3 separate regions of the Homo sapiens genome follow, and all the other regions are linked to region 2. Evidence: fine-mapped expression QTL. A gene starts in region 2. Each other region holds a variant in brackets. All regions are shown on one strand. Distances are from middle to middle.

The links. PIP is the estimated chance that this variant, and not a neighbour inherited with it, causes the effect.
Region 1: its variant is the best candidate, but not a certain one, in a credible set for the expression of IFITM2 in fibroblasts (GTEx, PIP 0.62).
Region 3: its variant is the best candidate, but not a certain one, in a credible set for the expression of IFITM2 in blood mononuclear cells (TOPMed, PIP 0.70).

What each region holds. Positions count from the first base shown.
Region 1 is chr11:353,507-356,358 of GRCh38, reverse strand. No RefSeq gene overlaps it. Among named protein-coding and RNA genes, the nearest start is that of B4GALNT4, 15 kb to the left of the region's middle. RefSeq lists silencers at 1-234, 2,703-2,852 and enhancers at 1-482, 1,669-1,958, 1,464-2,040. The variant G/C (reference allele first, on the strand shown) is at 1,603.
Region 2 is chr11:306,435-308,934 of GRCh38, reverse strand. It overlaps IFITM2 (interferon induced transmembrane protein 2), which reads right to left and starts at 1,119. Exons shown (of 2, transcript NM_006435.3): 1 at 497-1,119. The coding sequence starts at 742. RefSeq lists enhancers at 1-78, 459-878.
Region 3 is chr11:349,049-351,900 of GRCh38, reverse strand. No RefSeq gene overlaps it. Among named protein-coding and RNA genes, the nearest start is that of B4GALNT4, 19 kb to the left of the region's middle. RefSeq lists a cis regulatory region at 610-1,086. The variant G/A (reference allele first, on the strand shown) is at 1,321.

The sequences.
Region 1 (2,852 bases), 47 kb before region 2:
GGCAGAGCCCTTTGTGTTCGGGACGGGGCGGGACGCGCTGGGTGCGGGGAGACCCCCTGCGCCCCGGCCCTGCTGTGGAGGAAGGGGCTCTAGACGGGGCGGGGCGCTCCTCCGCGTGCTGCGTGTCTGGGGGCCCGAAACGCAGACCCGCCCCCCCACCGTTGGAACGAGCCCCCCCACCGTTGGAACGCGCCGCCCCCCCCTTCCCCCGCTCCAGGCGGCTCCCTGGAGAGCAGCTGGGAAACGCCCCACCCCCATCCATTCCTGGCCGCGCTTTCAGGGCTGTTTTCCTCGGGCTGGGAAACGCCCCGCCCCGTTCCATTCCCGGCCGTCGGTTCGGGAATGTTTTCCTGGCGCACAGCCCTGGGAGGCCTCCCGGGCGCCGAGGGCAGCGCTGGTCACCGTCCCGCGTGGCAGCCAGTGTCTGGGGGCAGAGTGTCCAGGAAGCTGCGCCCCCGGGCTCGTGTCCTGCCGCCACTCACTGCGTGGCACGGGTCCCCGGGCCCCTCCAGGCCTTCTGCGGGAGCTGGGGCTTGGGAAGCCGCCGCAGAAGCGGTTCCCTTGGCCACCTCCCTGCCTGAGAAGTCAACCGTCCTTGCCTCTGACCCAGGGGCTCTGTCTTCTGTTGGCCTCCGGGGATCTGTGGCCGGTTCACCCCCTAGCTGGCGAAGCTAGGCGTTTGAACCAGAGCAATTCCATCTTGATTGGGAGCTGGGTAAAATGAGGCTGAAATCCACTGGGCAGCATTTCCAGACGGTGGGAGCTCAGACCCTGCCCGTTTGTGCACAGGAAGCACCCACCGGGCTCCTGAAGTCCACGCGAGCTCCCTTCCCTGAGCTCCAGGCCAAGCTTGGAGTTCCCTCCGCCCCTTAGACCTCAGGCCGACTCGGCTTCCAGAATGCCATCCTCCCTGGACTGCAGTTAAATTAACTTCCTGTGTTCTGAGCCATCTGTTCCCTTCCTACCCTGTTTTCCACCCCAAATTGTTCTTAACCCCATTATTCAGGGCATGTGATAGTGTGGGCGGAGGATTACCCAGGTGCGGAGGCAAAAGACTGAAGGCACATGGCGGGCGCCTGTAGTCCCAGCTACTCGGGAAGCTGAGGCAGGAGAATGGGGTGAACCTGGGAGGCGGAGCTTGCAGTGAGCCCGGATGCGCCACTGCACTCCAGCCTGGGCGACAGAGCGAGACTCTGTCTCAAAAAAAAAAAAAAAAAAAAAAAAAAAAAAAAAGACAAGGCACAAACTTTCAGTATAATAAAGAGAATAAGAATAGTTATAATACAAATTAGAGATGATCATGGACATATCAATCATTAGTATAAACATTATTAATCATTAGCTTTTATCGTGGACATTATCAATCAGTATAAACATTATTAGTCATTAGCTTTTAATATTTCTCTTTGTGGCATTACTAATATAACCTAGGAATAACCGGCGGGTATAGGGTCAGGTGCTGAAGGGACGTTGTGAGAAGTGACCTAGAAGGCAAGAGGTGAGCCCTCTGTCACACCAACATAAGGGCCGCTTGAGGGCTCCTTGGTTAAGCGGTAACGCCAGTGCCTGGGAAGGCACCCGTTACTTAGCCGACCGTGAAAG[G/C]GAGTCTTCTTTCCTTGGAGGAGTCAGGGAACACTCTGCTCCACCAGCTTCTTGTGGGAGGCTGGATATTCTCCAGGCCTGGCCCGCAGTCATCCGGAGGCCTAACCCCCTCCCTGTGGTGCTTGAATGATCACACTCCTTGTCCACTTTCATGCTCCTCCCTTACTCCTGGTTCCTCTTTGAAGTTCTTAGAAGATAGCGGTAGAAGAAATAAAGTCTTTGATCTTTCTTTCTTTCTTTTTTTTTTTCTTTTTTTTTGAGACAGAGTCTTGCTCTGTCGCCCAGGCTGGAGTGCAGTGGTGCGATCTCGGCTCACTGCAAGCTCCGCCTCCTGGGTTCACACCATTCTCCTGCCTCAGCCTCCCAAATAGCTGGGACTACAGGCGCCTGCCACCATGCGTGGCTAATTTTTTGTATTTTTAGTAGAGACAGGGTTTCACCATGTTGGCCAGGCTGGTCTTGGCCACGTGACCTCAACTGATCTGCCTGCCTCGGCTTCCCAAAGTGCTGGGATTACAGGCGTGAGCCACTGCGCCCGGCCGTCTTTGATCTTTCTTAAAAGTGCATAGAAGAAAACGCTGACGTATGCTGCCTTCCCTCTCTGCTCCCGCTACCTGTAAGGGAAGGGCCCCTGTCCTATGGTCACATGACTTGCTTGACCTTATCAATCACTTGGACAACTCACCGTTCTTACCCTGCCCCCTTGTCTTGTATGCAATCAATATCAGCGTGCCCAGCCATTCGGGGCCACTACCGGTCTCCGCATCTTGGTGGTAGTGGTTCCCCGGGCACAGCTGTTTTCTCTCTATCTCTTTGTCTTGTGTATTTATTTCTTCCGGTCTCTCGTCTCCACACACGGGGAGAACACCCGCCAAGCCCCGTAGGGCTGGACCCTCCATGATAGAAGTCATGCTTTTAATCAAATGCAACCAATTCAGAATGGCAAATTAGGATATATACCCTTTCCCAAATCCAGTATCCCAGGAGAAATTACGGTACGGTAATTAATCCCCCTCCTCCCGCCAAGCTAAACCTCAGAGAAGTTGAAGTTCTAAAGTTCAAGTCCAAAAATACTGGGAAGGGAAAAACAAACAAAAAAACCGAGGAAACAAACATCAGGGAAAAACCCAGAACCTCGTCATGAAAATAGTGTCCTGTCGCTCTGTTTCTGATTTGCAGCTCACAGCTCGTGTTTCACCCCAGCCTCTGGGGCCGGCTCTGTGCCTGGCCTGAGGCCGATTCACTGGCTC
Region 2 (2,500 bases):
TCCTCCCTGCCCTGAGATCAGGGACCACCTCCTCCCCTTCCTCACCCGGCTCAGACTCTCCAGGAGCCTCGGGGCTCATCCTCCTTCTGCCTTGGCCCCAGCACAGGCTGTTCTCCCCACCATGGGGTGAAGTCACCTGTGAGTTCCCTTCTCACTTTCTGGGAGAGCCTGGGTGCCAGTCTGGAAGGTGAAGGTGTAATTTCTTACTGGGCTATAGGGAGAACTGCTCTGGGCTAGTGGATAGCCGGGGACAGACTCTGAGCCAGCCAGCCAGCCTCCTGGAGCCTCCTCCTAGACCTGCACTGGGCAGATTCCCCAAGCCACACACACACACAGATCACACAGACAAAGCCACTGACGTGGGCACACACAGGACAGACGTGCACACAAACTCACAGTCACAGGGACACACAAGTCCCCACCCCAGGCAGCATGTGGGCAGGTGGAGCCCCAGGCTCACCGGCACCCCCTGGATTTCCGCCAGGGCCATACGCACCTTCACGGAGTACGCGAATGCTATGAAGCCCAGGCAGCAGGTGTTCATGAAGAGGGTGTTGAACAGGGACCAGACCACATGGTCAGGCACGGAGGTCTCGCTGCGGATGTGGATCACGGTGGACATCGGGGGAGCAGGGTTGTGGGGCACCCCCAGCATAGCCACTTCCTGCTCCTCCTTGAGCATCTCGTAGTTGGGAGGCTGGCCGCTGTTGACAGGAGAGAAGGTTTGCACAATGTGGTTCATGGTGACCAGCGGTGATCGGGTTACCGGGATGGTTCTCAGTGAGCCCTCCCTTTCCCCAGTAGTTCCGTTTTCTCAACAGTTTCCTCTTCCTGGCATTTGTCAAATGCAGAGCTGGCCAGGGCCAGATAAGGGCAGAACAAATTCCTGAGGATCAAATTACTTTAGGAGAGGGAGGAAAGAGGGGCTGAGGGCTAAGAGGGGCTTCCTCTCTAGAGCCCAAAGGAGCACAAGTCTCATCTTGTTAGTGGTGTGGGGTCCTGGAGACTTCCCCTGTGTTGGGAGTCTCCACACCCCAGGCCAGCAGCTGCAGGACCTCACTGTCCCGGTTCAGGGCTCCTGCCAGGCCTGCGCTGACGCCTCCACACTCCAGGCCCCACAACCGTTTCCCCAAAGCCCTCACCTCTGCCGGGCGCCGTGGCTCACGCCTGTAATCCCAGCACTTTGGGAGGCTGAGGTGGGAGGATCATGAGGTCAGGAGATCGAGACCATCCTGGCTAACACGGTGAAACCCCGTCTCTACTAAATATACAAAAAAAAATTAGCCGGGTGTGATGGCGGGCACCTGTAGTCCCAGCTACTTGGGAGGCTGAGGTAGGAGAATGGCGTGAACCGGGGAGGCGGAGCTTGCAGTGAGCCAAGGTTGTGCCACTGCACTCCAGCCTGGGCAACAGAGCCAGACTCCGTCTCAAAAAAAAAAAAAAGCCCTCATCTCACTTGTCACAGGCCTCATCTGCTGACATCCCTTGTCCTTTGCTGGGGTTGCAGTCCTGCTCCATGCGGGTTTGGGGGTTAAAGGTCCCCGTGTCTCCTGGTGCAGGTCAGAGGGTTGGCGGCCAATGTTGCCTGCCCCAAAGGAGCCCTCCAGGCCCAGGAAAGGGGACTCTGGGAGCACTGACAGAAGAGGGGGCTGTGGGATGCCAATAGCAGAGACCTGGACGGTGGAGTTAGAAGCCATGGCCCTTTCCCCTGGAGGCCCACCTGGGTGACGGCTCCCAGACCCGCTCCACACAGCCCAGCAGCACCCACGCTGCCCAGAGCTCTGGCTGGCTGGTCCCTGGGGCACCCTCCAGATTTCCAGGTTCTGATCATCTCTGCCTCTTCCCTGGGTCCTCACACGGGTGCCAGCTGCTTCCTGTAGTTGCCGCCTGTTTTTCCCATGAACCGGTGCTGCCTCTGAGCAGCTCCTGAGGTTACAGCCTCCCTGTGGAAACACCTTGTGTGGCCTCTGGGCTTCTTCCTGGACCTTCCTTGGCAGAGGCTATTGCAGCAAACAGAGCTGATGCTGTGCACTTGAGCTTGTCAGAGGGGACAGTGCGGGTCACAGGGGCAGGAACGTGGCCTGCAGGCCTATGTGCACCGCGACCTGCGCCCTGTTTAATTCCTGATGTGCTACATGGGCCCATTTTCCTGGGCTTATTCTCCCACCAGGCCAGACTCCGCAGAGGACATCGCTGAGGGTGGAATTTACAGAGATGGGCAGCTGCTCACCCTGCTGTAGCCTTTCACCTCAGCGGGTGGTCAGGTCCACGTCAGTATTCCAGAGTTTACATGACGGTAGCGTGCAGCCGTGTAACTGCAGAGTGATGTGTTTGAGTAACGATGACTTTGGCTCTATAAGATAAATTTTATTGATAATTTCTAAGATTCCTAAGATTTAACTTTAACAATGGCTGTGTCTACCATCGACTCACAGTGCTTCTCGACGTCGAACACCCTAAGTCCTCCTCCTTCTGCTGGCTGGGGTGAGCTCTAAGGGCT
Region 3 (2,852 bases), 43 kb before region 2:
CTGACCTCGTGATCCGCCCGCCTTGGCCTCCCAAAGTGGTGGGATTACAGGCGTGAGCCACTGCGCCCGGCCAACTTGCTTTCACTTTATGGACTCCCCCTGATTTCTTTCTTGCATGAGATCCAGGAACCCTCTCTCGGGGTCTGGATCGGGACCCCTTTCCGGTAACATCTTTCTGGCGACCACAGAAGAAAAACTGCAGACTCAAAACCTAGCGTTGGGTAGGTGACATATCTCTGGTGACCTCAGGAGGGGCTCCAGTGCGGAAACCCCCGACCTAAAGGCTAACTTTGGGTAAGTAGTGGGGTCCGGTAACATCTTTCTGGCAAACCCTGAAGGGACAATACTGAGGAGGAGCCCCCGACCCAAAGGAAATAGACTCGGCCCTGACTGGACGACGCTGGGTAAGTGGTGGGGTAGCCGGCGAAGGATGGGATTGGGTGAGAGGCCCACTTAGGGGAGTTAGGGTCTGTCCTAAGACAGAGAGGGTGAAAGCCCACTCTTAATACAAGGCAAGGATGCTTGACCCACCTTGGGTTAGAGACCCACCTTAGGAGGGTTGGTTAGGGTCCCTTTTAAGATTTAGGGGCTTAGAGAGCCCCCTCAGTAAAGTCCCTCTCAGAAAAGTCCCTCTCGGCTGAGAACGGGTTCGGCACGAGGGGACGTTAACGGCTATTCTCTTTGGGTTAATCTGCCTTGCACTCTCTGCTGACGGCTGTGGGTGACAGGATTAGGCACGTACAGGATCGTGGAACATGGGGAGCTTTCTCCTCTCGCAAAAGGGGAACCTGAGAGCTGATGGGACTGCCGGAAAAAGTCCCTTCCCAACAGCAGCCGCCTGAAGTCCTCAGGGTTCCTGCAATGGGCGGGTCTTTCTCTGGCCTCCCTGAGCATTTTGCCTTCCCCACCCTGCCTCAGGCGATGCTTTTCTCTCTCTCCTTTCTCTTTTTTATCTTTTCTATCACTTGGGGCAACCGACTTGCCCAGAGAACACGTGTTGAAACTTGTGGTTGGAGGTTGGATTAACGATGACCGGAGCAAGTTTGAGCCTTGCCAGTGTGATGTTAGGTGCTAAGCAGAGTGGCTGATGTCTCTGTTTTCTCACACGTATTTTGCCCTGGCCAGAACGGAAAGAGGTAACTTCCTTTGTGCTGCAGCTTGGCCCCCAGGGCTGTGGTACAGCCAGTCGTAAGGGAGGAGACCACCCCTCACATTGTCTTATGCCCAATTTCTGCCTCCAGAGAAAGAAGTTAAAAGGCAGAAATGAAATCCACAAGCAGACAGCCCAACGCCACACCCTGGGCCTGGTAGTTAAAGATC[G/A]ACCGCTGGCTGATCTAATCGGTTATATTACCTATAGATTCCAGACATTGTATAGAAAAGCACTGTGAAAACCCCGTCCCGTCCTGTTCTGATTACCGGTGCATGCAGCCCCCAGTCACATACCCCCTGCTTGCTCAATCGATCACGACCCTCTCACGTGGACCCTCTTAGAGTTGTGAGCCCTGAAGAGGGACAGGAATTGCTCACTCGGGGAGCTCGGCTGTTGAAGATTTGACTCTTGCCAAAGCTCCCGGCCGAATAAAGCCCTTCTTTAACTCGGTGTCTGAGGGGTTTTGTCTGCAGCTAGTCCTGCTACAGTTGGGTCACTAGGGCCCCCCAGGAAAAGAAACCCAGAAATCTGTCATGCTGGCACAAGTGCAAGAACTGCTCACCAGTCAGACTTCTGTCTCTGTGTGTGTGTGTGTGTGTGTGTGTTGTGTGTGTGGGTGTGTGTATGGTGTGTGTGTGTGGGGTGTGTGTGGGTGTGTATGTGGTGTGTGTTTGTGGTGTGTGTGTATGGTGTGTGTGTGGTGTGTGTGTGTGGGGTGTGTGTGGGTGTGTATGTGGTGTGTGTTTGTGTGTGGTGTGTGTGTGTGGTGTTTGTGTGTGGTGTGTGTGTGGTGTTTGTGTGTGGGGGGTGTGTGTTGTGTGTGTGGTGTGTGTGTGGGTGTGTGTGGGTGTGTGTGTGTGGGGTGTGTGTGGGTGTGTATGTGGTGTGTGTGTGTGGTGTGTGTGTATGGTGTGTGTGTGGTGTTTGTGTGGTGTTTGTGTGGGGGGTGTGTGTTGTGTGTGTGGGGTGTGTGTGGTATGTGTGGTGTGTGTGTGTGAGGTGTGTGTGTGCGTGTGGTGTGTGTGTGGTGTGTGTGTATGGTGTGTGTGTGGTGTGTGTGTGGTGTTTGTGTGTGGTGTGTGTGTGGTGTGTGTGTGTGGGGGGTGTGTGTTGTGTGTGTGGGGTGTGTGTGGTATGTGTGGTGTGTGTGTGTGAGGTGTGTGTGTGCGTGTGGTGTGTGTGTGGTGTGTGTGTGGTGTGTGTGGGGGTGTGTGTGTTGTGTGTGTGTGTGTGTGTGTGTGTGTGTAAACTGGACGAGGCTTCCCTCTGGTCCGTCATGTCCTTGGGACCTTGGCCTTGTAACCACGTGGCCGTACTTTCTCTTGGTTTCTGCCATCATAATGGCGGCCCGGGTTCAGGGTTCAATTCCCAGCTTAGGGGATGGGTCTTTAACTTCTGTTTGTCTGTGTTTTTGTACATGTTGTGTGTGGAATATAAAAGAGCTTTAATTAATTGGTTTAATAATAAGAGCTTAAATAAAAAATTTTGTCAGAAAAGTTAAAAGTGCAATGCTTTTTAGTTCATGTGACTTAAATAATCTTTGGGAAATAAAGACAGTTTTAAAGATTATTGGTAAAATAGAAATAGCTTCAAAAATTTAAAAATTTGGTCCAAATAATGCATGTCAGATATTAAGTTCACTAAATGCAAACAACACAACTGATGAGACTAGAATTTAATAACACATGTACCATAGTTCTTG